Linked DNA regions of Homo sapiens: regions 2, 3 and 4 are each reported to be linked to region 1. Evidence: microRNA targets listed by miRTarBase, many of them from high-throughput screens and not tested one by one. Region 1 holds a microRNA gene; each other region holds the end of a gene's coding sequence.

Region 1 (4,069 bases):
GACATGGCAGAATCTGTCCCAGTCCAGTGAGGGTGTCACATAAGAGGCCCTTGGCTTACCTCTATGCATAACTGGCCCACGTCACATCTTTAATTAGAAGTCCAAGTTATTGGCTGGACGCCATGGCTCATGCCTGTAATCCAAGCACTTTGGGAGGCCAAGGTGGGTGGATCACCTGAGGTCAGGAGTTCGAGACCAGCCTGGCCAACATAGTGAAACCCTGTCTCTACTAAAAATGCAAATATCAGCCGGGTGTGGTGGCACATGCCTGTAATCACAGCTACTCGGGAGGCTTGAGGCTGGAGAATCGCCTGAGCACACGAGATGGAGGTTGCAGTGAGCCGAGATCGTGCCACTGTGTTCTAGCCTGGGCGACAGAACAAGACTCTGTCTCAAAAAAAAAAAAAAAGTCCAAGTTACTGTTGCAGGGATTGGGACATCTTGCCTTTCTCAAGTTGAGCAATATTCCCAAATATAAAAATGTAGGATCTTAGTCCAATCAGAGCAGATATTTGGTGTAGGGCATTTTCTAATGTAGTACCAATAAATTAGACGCATACCTCAACCAAAAAACAGCCCATATCCAGTAAGTAATAAGGCAATGATTTACATTTCACATATTACCAGAGTAATGACTAATAGCATACATGTATAAACTGAAAAGTGACTGATGCTTATTTTCAGATGGGTCCAAATTTATTGGATAATTATGGAGAATAATGTATGTTTTCTGAGAGTTGGTAGTAAGAAAATATTGCCATTGCTGGCCAGGCACAATGGCTCACACCTATAATCCCAGCATTTTGGGAGACTTGAGGTCAGGAGTTCATGACCAGCCACCTCAGCCTCCCAAGTAACTAGAACTACTGGTGCATGCCACCAAGTCCAGCTAATTTTTTTTTTTTTTTGAGACGGAATATTGCTCTGTCACCCAGATTGGCTGTGTTCTCCATTCTAAGTCCAGTGGTTAGAAATTGTCAAGTTCTCACATCTGCAAAAAAAGTAAAAAAGATGAACCTGCTACATCTAAATATACTTTGTTGTCTTCCTACAAGTCCTATTTTACATACTTATGGCATTTTTACTGCAGTTTGAAAATACAGTCAATTCTTGTTATTCACAGTATTGATGTTCTATAAACTTGCCCTAAATACTGCATTAGTGAGTCCTGAATTTATTAGTTAATACTGAATTTCCTAGGGGAAATACAGGGTTAGGTTCCTGTGAGTCTTTGGTTACCTTTTTATCAACCAATCAACAAAAATCCTTATTTTACCTGTGTTTTTGTTTGAAGACACCTTTTAAAATATATATTATTGATTCATTAGCATTGAACTAAGCTTATCTAATGCACTTATTTTTTGTGTAAGGTGTATCACAGCCTTCTTGAGCCTAGGAATGCCAAATAGTACTTCCACACCATACTTAAGGGCCATTTCATTTTATTTCTTATTTTTAAAATTTATTCTCTTTTCTTATTTAAAGAAAAAATTTGTAGATGCCGGGTCTCGCCCTCTTGACCAGGCTGGAGTGCAGTGACACAATCACAACTCACTGGAGCCTCAAACTCCTGGGCTCAAGTGATCTTCCCACCTCAGCCTCCCAAATATCTGGGACTACAGGCACACGCCACCATGCCCAGCTAATTTTTTAATTTTATTTTTTTGTAGAGGCAGGGTCTGGCTATGTTTTTGAGGTCTTAATTCCCCAATGAACATGACTAGTATATTCCAGGCTGGTCTTGAACTCCTGTCACAAAGCAATTCTCTTGCCTTAGCCTCCCAAAGTGCTGGGATTTCAGGCATGAGCCACTGCACCTGGCTTGGACCATTTTAAATAGTGAAGTCACTCACACACACATACACGCATGCAGGTGCACACACAGACACAAAAAGACACAAAAATGCGAAACTTGTGGCACTAAAAAGACTGTGGAAAGGGTGCTTCCTTACAGTATGAAAACTGAAACAAAAAAGCAGAGTGTTGTTTAGTTAGACGCCACCTGGGAACGTGCTTGTTGGGAAACTCCAGTTGTCCACTGTCCTGCCATGTCTATGATGACTGCAAACATTTGGGAGTATTAATTTGAGGGTCACAAACAGATTTTAGGTGATGGGCATATTTACAAATACAGAATCTGCTAGTAATGAGGACTGACTGTATAATGCTTTAGTAGTCTCAAGTATGTTTTTTTTCTCATTAAGCCTTTGCTTAAGATGCAGGCAAGATTGATGCTGTTGGTTTGGTGCAAAAGTAATTGCAGTGCTTCCCATTTAAAAGTAATGGCACACACTGCAATTACTTTTGCTCCAACTTAATACTTGGCTTTATTGACTTTTAGCATCAGTGCAGTTTGGTTAATGATAAAATTTTCCAAAGCAGTGTCTCATCTGCAGGAGCAAACTATAGCAAGGGCCCTGGCCATCAGTTCTCCCTTCTGGTCCTGATATTCCTTTTTAAACTGTCTTTCCATACCCCTCCCTCCAGTGGGCTTGGCGATGTTGCATTAAATAGCAAAGAGAAGGAAACTCCTCCCCAGTCCTCACTGACCATTTCTTTTTCCACTCAGTCCTGCTCAGAATGTAGAAGAGAAGTTGAATTTAATTCATAAATTCAGCAGCTTGAGGACTGTCAGTTTTGTCGTTATTTAGTGAAATAGTAATTGAATTGGGCTACAAGGTCATTGGAATCTGCTGTTTCATTTCATATCATTTTACGTGTTATTATTCTAATAAGAATACAAATGGAGTTTGATGCCATTTGCTGATCATCCATCTTATTGATGCCATTGAACAGAACGCAGAAACACAAAGGGATTTATAAGGCATTTCAGTTTTGATGTCCTTTGAAAAATGAAAGTCTTTTCAGAAATGCAAAAGACAAAATGACTTAGAATTCCATCTCGTTCTGCCCGGTTTGAGGGCATCCCTTCCTATTCCTTAGATAGCTGTTAATAAGAGTCCTGAGGAAAACTGGGTTTGAATTTAAAAACAAAAAATTTTTAAGAGACAGGGTCTCGCTTTGTCACCCAGGCTGGAGTGCAGTGGCACAATCATAGCCCCTGTAACCTTGAAGTCCTGGACTCAAGTGATGCTCCCACCTCAGCCTCCCTAGTAGCTGGAACTACTGGCACATGCCATCAAGTCCAGCTTTTTTTTTTTTTTTTTCTGAGATGGAATCTCACTTTGTCACCGAGGCCGTAGTGCAGTGGCGCGATCTCGGCTCACAGCAACCTCTGTCTCTCAAGTTCAAGTGATTGTCCTGCCTCAGCCTCCTGAGTAGCTGGGACTACAAGCATGTGCTACTACGCCCAGCTAATTTTTGTATTTTTAGTAGAGACAGGGTTTCACCATATTGGCCAGGCTGGTCTGGAACTCCTGACCTTGTGATCCGTCCGCCTCAGCCTCTCAAAGTGCTGGGATTACAGGCATGAGCCACCACACCCAGCCAAGTCCAGCTAATTAAAAAAAAAATAAAAATCGTAGAGATGGGGTCTCCCCGTGTTGCCCAAGCTGGTGTCAAATTCCTGACCTCAAGCAATCCTCCCACCTCGGCCTCCCAAAGCTCTATGATTATAGATGTGAGCTGCCATGCCTGGCCTTAAATTTTTCAAAAGCTTTTAAACCAATCTTAAAATGTTTTATCCTCTTAGAATCATGTCCCTAGTTTTATAGCTTGGAAATTCTTGCTCTTTTCAAATTGCTCTTTAACTCTGGCCTGATTGGAAGGTGGCAGCTTTTCAAATACAGGTCATGGCAGCGCTCAACCTGGATTCCTCAGTTGCAGAAGACTGCTTTTGCTAGACTGCTGAATTTACTTCCAACTTTTCAGATGTTTCTGAGGTTGACCCTGGTGTGGTTCCCACTCAAAGTGGAGCAAGCAGGTGGGTGGCAGGTCTCTTCTTAGCGGCTTCCTAGAGGGAAGCCTCGTGAGTGGGATGGGGGACAGGTTGCCCTGGGGGAGCCCAGGAATGGGGAGACAAGGCCACCTGCTATGCAGATGATATAGTTTGGCTGTGTACCCACCCACTTCTCATCTTGAATTGTAGTTCCCATAATCCCCACATGTT
Region 2 (4,069 bases), not on the chromosome of region 1:
GAACTTTATAGTAATTTTTGCTAAAGGAAGTTCCTAGTAAGCAGTTATTTGCCTTTGGTAAACTTAATTTTAGATGAAAACTATGCACAAAAAAACAATTGTCTTATGATTAGACCTTCAAGTTAGGAGGTGAATAGTCTATGCAGCATAAGACAAACCATAACTCTTACCTTTAAATTTTCTCATTTGACAAGAACTATCAAATTCCTTTTTAAAAGAGTACACATATACGTTTTTAATTTGGAAATTTCATATTCGGTAAAAATTCAAATTTTAATTACTGTGGAATTTTGACAACTCCAGCAATGGCAAAGCTGAATTTATTTCACTATTATCTATCAAAAAGCAAGTAACATTATAAGATTCCAAATGTTTAACCTGGTAAAAGTGAGAATATATTTCAATCAAGAGCATACCATCTAAAAAAAACACTATTGCTATCTAGTCATATGCATTTCTTATTACATTTTTGCAGCCCCTAAGTGTTCAGAACAAATGTAGCATTCACATAATACTATAGTCAATGAAAAGAGTATATTCTTTTATTGGTTTTTGTTCATACATGTTAAGTTTCAACTTTCAATAATAAAATTCAATAAATTTGATTCCTTAATCATAAAAACTGGCTTTACACATTATTTACATATTGTCAAAGTCCATACAAAACATCACAAGGATTTGATTGACTCTATGCATGGTACCATCACACAGGAGGAGGGAGCTAATCCAGTAACATACATTCAAAGATTAAATTGCAGATATGCACAGTGTATTTGGCACTGTTCATTAATATTATAACACCTTCCTCTCAAAGACAGGCATTCTTAAGCGTTAGTCACGATATACCAGAATTTGCTATTCACATTAAAACCACCTTTTAAACTTTATAACAGTAACCGATTATTATAGTTTTAAGAAACAAAACACAATGAGAACTGGGAATGGAATTCAAATCCTCCAACTTCTTGCTATGCTCCAAGCTGCCATCCATAAAACAGGTTTAATTCGGTAATTTTTCCATTGTGGGGAGTGTCAACAAGAAACAATTTAAAGACAGTATTTTCCAATACAAATAAAGACACATACTTTTGTTTAAAATTACCAGTTCTTCTTGGGAGTGCAAAGGGAGCCTTGATGATGTACAACTTGTGATGCTTTTGGCAGGAATTACAGAACAACCAATGCCATTCAAGTTGTGGAGATTGTACTAGCAGGTGAACTCATAAAGAGAAGGTTCTGGAATGACTACATCTGAAATCAGAATCCTAGTAGTTTGTAGTTTGCCTCTTCCTAGAACTTCAAGAGACTCAAATCATAGGCTACAGATGTACTTTCAAGTATATACTTATGAATGGAAGGAGAAAATAAAAGCACGAAAATGCAAATATTAAACCTTTACTGGCTTGGGCTATATTCCAGTAGGTAATTTATTTGACTAACTTAACTTTAACAACGATTAAATCCCTTCATTTTAATCAGGTCCATTAAATTTCATTCATTAAAGCTATACATACTCCAGAATGTTTATAAGACATTTATACCTATCATGTTTACAAAAGGCATAAATTCAGTCTTCAGCTGCACTACAAATGCCTCAATATAATATAATCACAGTATAAGGAATCAGAAATTCTCTGGTTAGATATGCTGTAGCTTCACACAAAACTCTCAGTAATAAATTAAAACAAAAAAAAAAAGTCGTACAACGTATAATGGATTATGCAGTGCAAAGTAATGTCACTGGACCAAAATTTAGTTTAATCATTTTTATTTCAAGTGTATTTAAAAAATCATAAATGGGGTTTCATAATCCAAAGTTGAAACATTTATTCTTCATAGCTTCAGAATTTAACAACCAATTGTAGACCATGCTTTCCAAATCCAGTCTTCTTTGCTATTTTTCAAAACTTCTGAGATCTAGTATTAAACTGCTCCATTCTAAATGTATAGTTTTAGATAAGTATTGTACACTTGTTGATAAGGGTTTTCTGAAAGCAGTCTATCAAATATAAAGAATGGTTTCTATCTAAGAATCAGCAGTGAGGGAAGAAATATTAAACACCTATCAAGAAATCAATTATTCATTTTAAAAATAACAGAACCAGTGCTGCTCTCTGTCATAAAAGAGAACATGTAAAATTTATTTTTATAGACTTTGGTAATATTTTATTCCCCCACAGAGGCCTTCAATCCTACTTAAAGATATTTTACACACAGTAACCATCAGGATTTACTGAGTAAAAATCTCAGGTATTAACCATGCCCCTAAAATGTGCTATTCCAAAGAGGAACAGGTTACTTTTGAGGAAAAAAGCTGCCTTGGTAACTTCCCTCAAATGTTTATTTTAAATAAAAATGGTTGATGGAAATATTTTTTAAAAGAACTTTGGGTATAATATGGCATACTGCCCATCAAACAAAAAAGGAAATAAAACTTTCTTTCCATTTATAATAAGTTTTCCACCTTTACTATCAAGATTACAACTTATTGACCTTTTATGCTTGCTTGGTTTTTTTGACTGCCTAATCCAATGTTTAAATTTTTAAGTCTGCATTTCAATGTAGTAGGAGTTATTTTTCAAATAATCTTCAGAACCCAGAATACAGAGCAACTCTCAGAATACCAGAGCAACACTCTCAAGTCATACTTTTGAACCCAGAATACCAGAATACCAGACTTCAGAACCCAGAATACCAGAGCAACACTCTCAAGTCATACTTTTGACTACAATTAAGAGATGAAAATGGACGGATATCTGAAGATAGGTATTCCCTCTGCTCTGAAGGTGAGCAAGATTTTAACATGTGAGCAACACAGAACTCCACTCCTCTGGAGCTCCTTTCAACTCAGAATGCTTCAGTTCAGTAAGTCAATATATTATTCTTAAAAATTAAAGTTTGGTCACTAAGAAGGACTGAACAAAAATTATTCCCCTCCCGCCAAACACAACCAGAACAGTTCTAATCAGGCCCTCTTCTCCCCACAAAAATAGGGAAGTAGCTGGGCTGAAGACTTTAAGTGTGACATTTCAGTTCCTAAAACATCACTGCTATTTGCTCAAAGTTGTAGGTCTATGTATTTCCTTCTCCAATACGTCCCCATTTATAAGTTTATTTCCATACATACAAACGTGCACATGTGTGCACGTGCACACGCACACACACACACTCACTCTCAAGTAAGACACTTTTTTGTGTTTGTTGATAAATTATGAGGATTATGAACTAGGTGTGTACAGGGTTTCATAGGTGCTTTGTAAACATCAGAGTCACTTGGTTCCTTTCCTCCACAAGCCTCAAATCAAATTATGCAACCAATGACCACTACTTTCCCAGACGCTGTTCACAGGCTGCATATTGACGAAGGGCAGAGAAAAAGTCCTCATAACTGATGTTTAGGTGGGAAGGCAAAGAGCTGAAAAGAAAACACGGGGGGAGAAAAGCAATTAGATATACACTGTAATGTAGGGGGGAACCAGAAGATAAGGACCAAAAAGAAGTTAAGAATAGAATACACCAAATTATCCTCCACCAGACAGCACCATGACAGGCACGGAAAATGTCTTAATCATAATATGTAGACTGAAAGGGTGGGGCCCTGACAGAACTGACTGGGAAATAGCAGAGAGCCTCTGAGGCACCGAGGGGTAGTGGCACTCACTGTTTATTGACGAGTGTTCATTGAAGATAGCTATTCCCTCTGCTCTGAGGGTAAATTATAAGCAGAATATGCCAAACAATTCTACTAAGATTGTTCAGCTCATTGTGGACAATGAGATGACAAGGACACACAATGTCATCATCAACTAAAAAATTAATATGCCTCTTTTTCCACAAGAAAAGCAACTAGTAATGAGAGATTCATAACTTGTTAAAGCGTAAGCTCAGATTAATGCAAAGCTAGAGATCTATGTATAAAGGATCTCATTTAAATCCATTAAAGAATTTCTCCTTGGTCAGAGTAAAGCCAATATTACTTAGTTTAGGAAAGCCATGCTTAATGTTGGGCAGAGCCACACAGCATCCAAACATGATGAAATATTGTAGCCATGTTGTGAGCAACCTAGAA
Region 3 (4,069 bases), not on the chromosome of region 1:
TACGTGCTGGCTGACTGATTGCATCTCTCTGCCCAAGGTTCATTGTGGGATCAGACCGTGCTATCTTCATGCTTCGCGATGGGAGCTACGCCTGGGAGATCAAGGACTTTTTGGTCGGTCAAGACAGGTGTGCTGATGTAACTCTGGAGGGCCAGGTGTACCCCGGCAAAGGAGGAGGAAGCAAAGAGAAAAATAAAACAAAGCAAGACAAGGGCAAAAAAAAGAAGGAAGGAGATCTGAAATCTCGGTCTTCCAAGGAAGAAAATCGAGCTGGGAATAAAAGAGAAGACCTGTGATGGGGCAGCAGTGACGCGCTGTGGGGGGACAGGTGGACGTGGAGAGCTCTTTGCCCAGCTCCTGGGGTGGGAGTGGTCTCAGGCAACTGCACACCGGATGACATTCTAGTGTCTTCTAGAAAGGGTCTGCCACATGACCAGTTTGTGGTCAAAGAATTACTGCTTAATAGGCTTCAAGTAAGAAGACAGATGTTTTCTAATTAATACTGGACACTGACAAATTCATGTTTACTATAAAATCTCCTTACATGGAAATGTGACTGTGTTGCTTTTTCCCATTTACACTTGGTGAGTCATCAACTCTACTGAGATTCCACTCCCCTCCAAGCACCTGCTGTGATTGGGTGGCCTGCTCTGATCAGATAGCAAATTCTGATCAGAGAAGACTTTAAAACTCTTGACTTAATTGAGTAAACTCTTCATGCCATATACATCATTTTCATTATGTTAAAGGTAAAATATGCTTTGTGAACTCAGATGTCTGTAGCCAGGAAGCCAGGGTGTGTAAATCCAAAATCTATGCAGGAAATGCGGAGAATAGAAAATATGTCACTTGAAATCCTAAGTAGTTTTGAATTTCTTTGACTTGAATCTTACTCATCAGTAAGAGAACTCTTGGTGTCTGTCAGGTTTTATGTGGTCTGTAAAGTTAGGGGTTCTGTTTTGTTTCCTTATTTAGGAAAGAGTACTGCTGGTGTCGAGGGGTTATATGTTCCATTTAATGTGACAGTTTTAAAGGATTTAAGTAGGGAATCAGAGTCCTTTGCAGAGTGTGACAGACGACTCAATAACCTCATTTGTTTCTAAACATTTTTCTTTGATAAAGTGCCTAAATCTGTGCTTTCGTATAGAGTAACATGATGTGCTACTGTTGATGTCTGATTTTGCCGTTCATGTTAGAGCCTACTGTGAATAAGAGTTAGAACATTTATATACAGATGTCATTTCTAAGAACTAAAATTCTTTGGGAAAAACCCTCAATTGTGATTTTAATAAATTAAAAGTAGCACATTACATGGTTAGAAAATGTCAGTGTTAAAGAATGGTACAAAGTGAAAAGTGTATCCCTCTCTTGCCGCCGGTGGTAGCTTGTCCCAGTGGAAGCTGCTGTTAACAATTTGTGCCCCCACATCCCCCTCCCTGCCCATCCACCAAAAAAAAGTACATTTACTTATGTAAATGTACTTATGGTGATGTATGTTTGTTTTGGCCTCACAGCATCTGTTTCCCCTTAATTTGGTAGCTGCTCACATTTCCCTCGAAAGAACCACACCCTCTGCATTCTCAGTTCTCTGCTTTGGATGGGACATTTGCCCTGCAGTCCCCCCACCCTCCAGGCCATGCCCTCTCCAGGGTGAGGCCTGTGTGATCTACCGTACTAGGGTACTAGGCCCTGAAAGAGGCTTTTCTTGTTCCTCCTGCATCTTGAACCTGGAGCGGGAGCTGTTGTAGGCCCCGCCCTTGGAGAAGAGAACTGTCTGACAGTGGGGAGAGAGCGCCACACCCTGGTGGCATAAACGAGTCCCTGAATCATGCCGTGGCTGAACCAAGCCCTGTCTGTGGGCTTTTTCTGTTGTACTCAGGGCAGTTTGATGGGGTTACTGTCCTGCATAGCCATAATGGCCCAGTATAAAGCAGCTGTTTTGATGAGATAATTGCTTTAATTAAGCAAAAGGTAGCAAAGCTTTCACTCCGCCCTGTACCTTCTGTTTCCACTTAGGAGCCTTCCCATGTCAGAATGTGCAGATCTGTCTCATTGTTTCCTGTGCAGTGTGCCCCCACTTCACCCAGTAGTTTCTGTGTGTCTGTTATGTACTAGGTACTACAAGGTGCCAGGACGGTGTAGATACAGCCTCTGCTATCGTAAAACTCAATGATTCGGTGGGGGAAGACAAATGTCAGTAATGTACAAAGTAAAATGGCAGCTGTTAGAAGTATGAAAGGGGCAGGGTAGGGGGAGGTAGAATCTTCCCTGACCAGGTTAAGAAAACCAGAGGCCTTCTCTGAGGGCAAGAGGAGGAGAGGAGAAATAGAGTAAGGCAGGCAGAGGAAACAGTCTGAGCTAAGACCCTGTGGCTAGAAGTGGCAGAGGGAGAGGCAGCAGGAAGGCCAGCGGGGAGGCTGGGGCCCAGTGCAGGCCCAGGTTGGAGGAGCGTAGCACATGGAGTTTGGTAGGAGTTTGGGACGCCCTGGTGGATCTTAATTGTGATGGGGTGGGTGTGAAAGGCAGTCCAGGTTGCACTGGTTGCACAGGAGAAGTGATCAGAAGAGGACCCCAGCAGGTGTGAGCCGTGAGCTGGGAGGTGCTTCAGTAGTGCAGGCCATAGCTGAAGGTGTCCTACATCAGCAGGGTGATGGTGAGGTTTGAACCACTGTTTCACTGCATAGTCCCTGCTGATGGACACTTGAGTGTTCAGATTTTTTGCTGGTATATTCAGTGCTGCAGTGGACATTTTCATACAAAATATTTCGGTACACTTTTGTTTATATCTGAAAGGTAAATTCCTAGCAGTAGAATTATTAGAGCAAACGGAATTTAACATTTTGGTGTGTATTGCCAAATTGCCCTCCCAAGTGGTTTAGTCAGCTTACCCTTGCCAACAATAGATCTATCCTTGCCAGCCTTGGGCATCACATTTACCAGTTTAATAGATTGTAAAACCATATCTTAATTGGCTACCCTGAAGCCACCATACTGGAGAGGCTGCGTACAGTGTTTCACGTAGAGAGAGGGATACCCAGGAGGCCCACCTGCTCCAACCCCAGCTGCATGAGTCTTCCCAGCCCAGGCACAGACATGTGGATAAGATTTAAACATTTCCAGCCCCAGCCTTCAAGCAATCCTAGTTGACACTGAGGGGAGCCAACATAAGCTGAGCTGAGAAACAGTCTGCCCAGTCTGCAGATTCATGAGCAAAAGAAATGTTGGGCTGGGTACAGTGGCTCACGCCTGTAATCCCAGTACTTTGGGAGGCCGAGGTGGGTGGATCAGTTGAGGTCAGGAGTTTGAGACCAGCCTGGCCAACATGGTGAAGCCCTGTCTCTACTAAAAATTAGCCGAGTGTGGTGGTGCGGGCCTGTAATCCCAGCTACTCAGGTGGCTGAGGCAGGAGAATGGCTTGAACCCGGGAGGCGGAGGTTGCAGTGAGCCAAGATCAGGCCACTGCACTCCAGCCTGGATGACGGGATGAGACTCTGTCTCAAAAAAACGAAACAAAAATTTTTTAAGAGAAATGTCATTTGTTTTTGTTTTTGAGACAGGGTCTCACTCTGTTGCCCTCACTAGAGTGCAGTAGGATCACGGCTCACTGAAGTCTCTACCTACCGGCTCAATTGATCTTCCCACCACAGCCTCCCAAATAGCTGGGAGAAATGTCCTGTTTTTAATGAATTTGTCTTCCTTTTTGTCTTGTTTGTTTTAATATCTAGTGATCTAATAAATTTGGATGATATCTTTTGACTATCAATTATGAAACCTGTATCAGATATACACATCTTTCCTTCTTCATCCTCAGGCTTTCTGGTTTTGATGGTGATACTGTGGCTTTTGTACTTCTGGTGGTTTCCCTTATACTGTTAAACCTCTTTTTTTTTTTTAAATTAAACCAACTTAGTATGCATTAACCACTGAACAAGGGAAAGGAACTCACAAACTTTTTCCTGTGTCCCTGATTATTGTTTAATAGTGTTTGTATACTGACAAGATACATAATATCCACCTTCTGCACCCACAGTGTCCGCCTTTATGCTTGGACAAGAGCATGCAGGGTAGG
Region 4 (4,069 bases), not on the chromosome of region 1:
TATCGTTTAGATATAAAGAGAATGCTATGAAATTATCAAGAATTCATCATGATCAACCAGTGAAGCCCCTTGATCGAGCAGTCTTCTGGATTGAATTTGTCATGCGCCATAAAGGAGCCAAGCACCTTCGGGTTGCAGCCCACGACCTCACCTGGTTCCAGTACCACTCTTTGGATGTGACTGGGTTCCTGCTGGCCTGTGTGGCAACTGTGATATTCATCATCACAAAATGTCTGTTTTGTGTCTGGAAGTTTGTTAGAACAGGAAAGAAGGGGAAAAGAGATTAATTACGTCTGAGGCTGGAAGCTGGGAAACCCAATAAATGAACTCCTTTAGTTTATTACAACAAGAAGACGTTGTGATACAAGAGATTCCTTTCTTCTTGTGACAAAACATCTTTCAAAACTTACCTTGTCAAGTCAAAATTTGTTTTAGTACCTGTTTAACCATTAGAAATATTTCATGTCAAGGAGGAAAACATTAGGGAAAACAAAAATGATATAAAGCCATATGAGGTTATATTGAAATGTATTGAGCTTATATTGAAATTTATTGTTCCAATTCACAGGTTACATGAAAAAAAATTTACTAAGCTTAACTACATGTCACACATTGTACATGGAAACAAGAACATTAAGAAGTCCACTGACAGTATCAGTACTGTTTTGCAAATACTCAGCATACTTTGGATCCATTTCATGCAGGATTGTGTTGTTTTAACTGTTGTTGAGGAAGCTAATAAATAATTAAATTGTATAGAAAGTCTCTTCCTCTTGATATTTTGAGATGATTAGTGCTGCTTGGCTTTTATTGTGCATCGTGCTTCAACGTCATTTTTTTTCCTAAAAGGTATGATAAAAATGCTTACCATTTTAGAGCTTAAGTCATTTCCCAGTGAAAAGTATGTGGAATTAGAAATATAGCAACTCCTACCTGGTTTCTACTACAAAATGAACTAATTTTACAATGCGTTTGGTTTTTTGAGCCAATTCTATTTTTCTGTTCATTTGAAAATATTCATCTTTTTTTATTCTTTGTTTTTTAGGTATTTCAATAGCTTTTGGGTGACAACTGGTTTTTGGTTACATGGATAAGCTCTTTAGTGGTGATTTTTCAGATTTTGGTGCACTCATTACTCAAGAAGTATACACTGTACCCAGTGTGTACTGTTTTATCCCTCACATCCCTCCTACCCTTCCCTCTGAGTTCCAAGAGTCCATTATATCATTCTTATGCCTCTATGTCCTAATAGCTTAGGTCCCCCTTATAAGTGAGAACATACATTGTTTGGTTTTATATTTCTGAATTACTTCACTTAGAATAATGGTCTCCAACTCCATCCAGGTTTATTTTGTCCATTTTGATGGCTGAGTAGTGTATATATATATATATAATATATGTGTGTGTATATATATATATTCCCCAACTAGTGGCTAAAGTAAATGTGATATTTATATATAATATATATTAGATATATATAATTATATATGTATGTGTATATATATATAATTATATATGTATGTGTATACAAACACACACACACACACACACACACACACACACATATATATATATATATATCTCACATTTTCTTTATCCACCCATTGACTGATGGGAATCTAGGCTGGTTCCACAGTTTTGCAATTGTGAATTGTGCTGCTATAAACATGTGTGTATATGGGTCTTTTTCATATAATGACTTATTTTCCTCTAGATAGATGTCCAGCAGTGGAATTGCTGGATCAAATGGCAGTTCTACTTTTAGTTATTTAAGGGATATCCATATTGTTTGCCATAGTGGTTGTACTAGCTTGCATTCCCACCAGCAGTGTAAATGTGTTCCCTTATTACTACCATGCCAACATCTATTATTTTTGGATTTTTAAACTATGGCCATTCACCATTTGTATATCTTCTTTTGTAAATTGTCTATTCATGTCCTTAAGTCACATTTTGAGGGATTATTTGTTTTTGTCTTGCTGATTTGTTTCAGCACTTTGTAGATTGTGGATATTAGTCTTTTGTGGGATGTGTAGTTTGTGAAGATTTTCTCTAACTCTGTGAGTTATCTGTTTACTTTGCTGATTATCTCTTTCGCTGTTCAGAAGCTGTTTAGTGTAATTGAGTTCCATCTATTTAACTTTGTTTTGGTTGCCTTTGCTTTTGGGTTCTTGGTCATGAAGTCTTTGCCTAAACAAATGTCTAGAACAGTTTTTATGATGCTATCTTCTACAATTTTTATACTTCCAGGTCTTAGATTTAATTATTTGATTCATCTTGAGTTGATCTTTGTATAAGGTGAGAGATGAGTATCCAATTTCATTCTTCTACATGTGGCTTGCCAATTATCCCAGCACCATTTGTTGAATAGGTTTTCCTTTCCCCATTTTATGTTTTTGTTTGCTTTGTCAAAGACTAGTTGGCTATAAGTATTTAGTTTTATTTCTGAATTCTCTATTCTGTTTCATTGGTCTACATGCCTGTTTTTATACCAGTACCATGCTGTTTTGTTAACTATAGCCTTGTAGTATAGTTTGAAGTCAGGTAATGTGACACTTCCAGATGTGTGTTTTTTTTGTTGTTGTTGTTTGTTTTTTTGCTTAGTCTTACTTGGGCTATGTGGACATCAAAGCTGAGAATCAAATAAAAACCTCAACCCCTATTAAAGCATCTGCAATAATAATAATAATAATAAAATAAATACTTACAAATATACTTAACCAAGAAGGTGAAAGTTCTCCACAAAGAAGACCACAAAACACTTCTGAAATAAATCATAGATGATGCAAACAAATGGAAACACATCCTGTGTTCATTTGTGGCTTGAATAAATATTGTGAAAAAGACCATACTACCAAAAGCAATCTATAAATTCAATGTAATTTCCATTAAAATACCATCATCTTTATTCACAGAACCAAAAAAAAATTCTAAATTTCTTGTGGGTTCTATTCTCATTTTTCACCTTTAATGACAAATGTTAAGTTCTTAATTTTTGGTTGTAATAATATAGGAATTTCATTATGAAGGGATTAAGTGTATTTTTAATCTTGCTAAACATACATGTACATATACATGTCCATTTTTTTAAAATAAGACACTGCATCATTTAGTTACCTAATAGATAGGTGGTAAAATTCAATGTGTTTATTGAAGACAGTTTGAAATAATAATTATATTCCACATACTATACTTCAAATAATCATCTCTAATTTTTCTCTTTTTCCACAGGGTCTTTTGATCCATTTCTTCTCTAAATATAAAATAGAAGCATGAAATCTTTTAGGATGACAAAAAGTGTACAAAGTATACAATGAGTTTATAAATTTTGTGGAAAATAGCTAAATCAAGCCATAAACCTTCTTTAATATACACATCAGGGAAGCACTTTATGATAAAAGTGGTCCAGATGGACAAAAACTTAGTTGTCTTTGCTGGTAAGAAGCCTTACTATTTACTAATTATCACACAAGTATTCTCCAGTCTAAGGAATGATTTAAATATAAATATTATATATATATATTTCACTACATATGTATATATATTTATATATGTATATATAAATCATGACTATATATATATATATATACACACACACACAGTATAACATTGATGCTAGAGAAATTATAGGAAAAGTTTATAACAGAATATTTCATACAAATCATCCAGGAACTGATACATATATAAAGAAACACAGAACTAATATAGTGCCAAAGGTTAATAATGTTGTTTTATCATGCTTATAAACCTCTGCTTATTTACATTAAACCTATCCTACAACACATGTAACAATAGATTGGTTTCCATTGTTTAGTGACAACTACAAAACAACAACCAAAAAAGACAAACAAATCTAATAAAAAGTTGATGAAAGTATGAATAGGTAATTCAAAGTAAAAATGGCAAATAACATATCAAAGATGATAAAGTTACTGATGCTCAATTAAATAGAAATAATGCCAATAAATTATTGCTATAAAAACCTCAAATAGAAGAGTCAGCATAACATGGTGGTTAAGAGCTGGCACTCTGAATTCAGGTCACCTTGATTCAAATCTCTGAGAAATCA

What was found. Region 1 holds the annotated microRNA hsa-miR-603 (CACACACUGCAAUUACUUUUGC, at 2,287-2,308, shown strand). A microRNA usually pairs through its seed, bases 2 to 8, with sites in the 3' UTR of a target mRNA and lowers its output. Matches are read on the target gene's strand: a 7mer-m8 pairs with bases 2 to 8, a 7mer-A1 pairs with bases 2 to 7 and ends in A, and an 8mer does both.
Region 2: the mRNA of NUS1 is a reported target of hsa-miR-603. Seed matches in the 3' UTR shown: 7mer-m8 at 3,164-3,170 and 7mer-A1 at 2,209-2,215.
Region 3: miRTarBase lists MESD as a target of hsa-miR-603. Seed matches in the 3' UTR shown: 7mer-A1 at 797-803 and 7mer-A1 at 2,844-2,850.
Region 4: miRTarBase lists UGT2B4 as a target of hsa-miR-603. The part of its 3' UTR that is shown has no 7-base or 8-base seed match.

What each region holds. Positions count from the first base shown.
Region 1 is chr10:24,273,459-24,277,527 of GRCh38, forward strand. It overlaps MIR603 (microRNA 603), which reads left to right and starts at 2,227; the gene lies at 2,227-2,323. The region is part of intron 2 of KIAA1217; the gene reads left to right.
Region 2 is chr6:117,706,271-117,710,339 of GRCh38, reverse strand. NUS1 (NUS1 dehydrodolichyl diphosphate synthase subunit) reads right to left here. Exons shown (of 5, transcript NM_138459.5): 5 at 1-3,415. The coding sequence ends at 3,325. Among named protein-coding and RNA genes, the nearest start is that of NUS1, 33 kb to the right of the region's middle.
Region 3 is chr15:80,975,446-80,979,514 of GRCh38, reverse strand. It overlaps MESD (mesoderm development LRP chaperone), which reads left to right. Exons shown (of 3, transcript NM_015154.3): 3 at 38-3,763. The coding sequence ends at 296. Among named protein-coding and RNA genes, the nearest start is that of MESD, 12 kb to the left of the region's middle. RefSeq lists silencers at 493-787, 1,653-1,947.
Region 4 is chr4:69,476,852-69,480,920 of GRCh38, reverse strand. UGT2B4 (UDP glucuronosyltransferase family 2 member B4) reads left to right here. Exons shown (of 6, transcript NM_021139.3): 6 at 11-756. The coding sequence ends at 287. Among named protein-coding and RNA genes, the nearest start is that of UGT2B4, 17 kb to the left of the region's middle.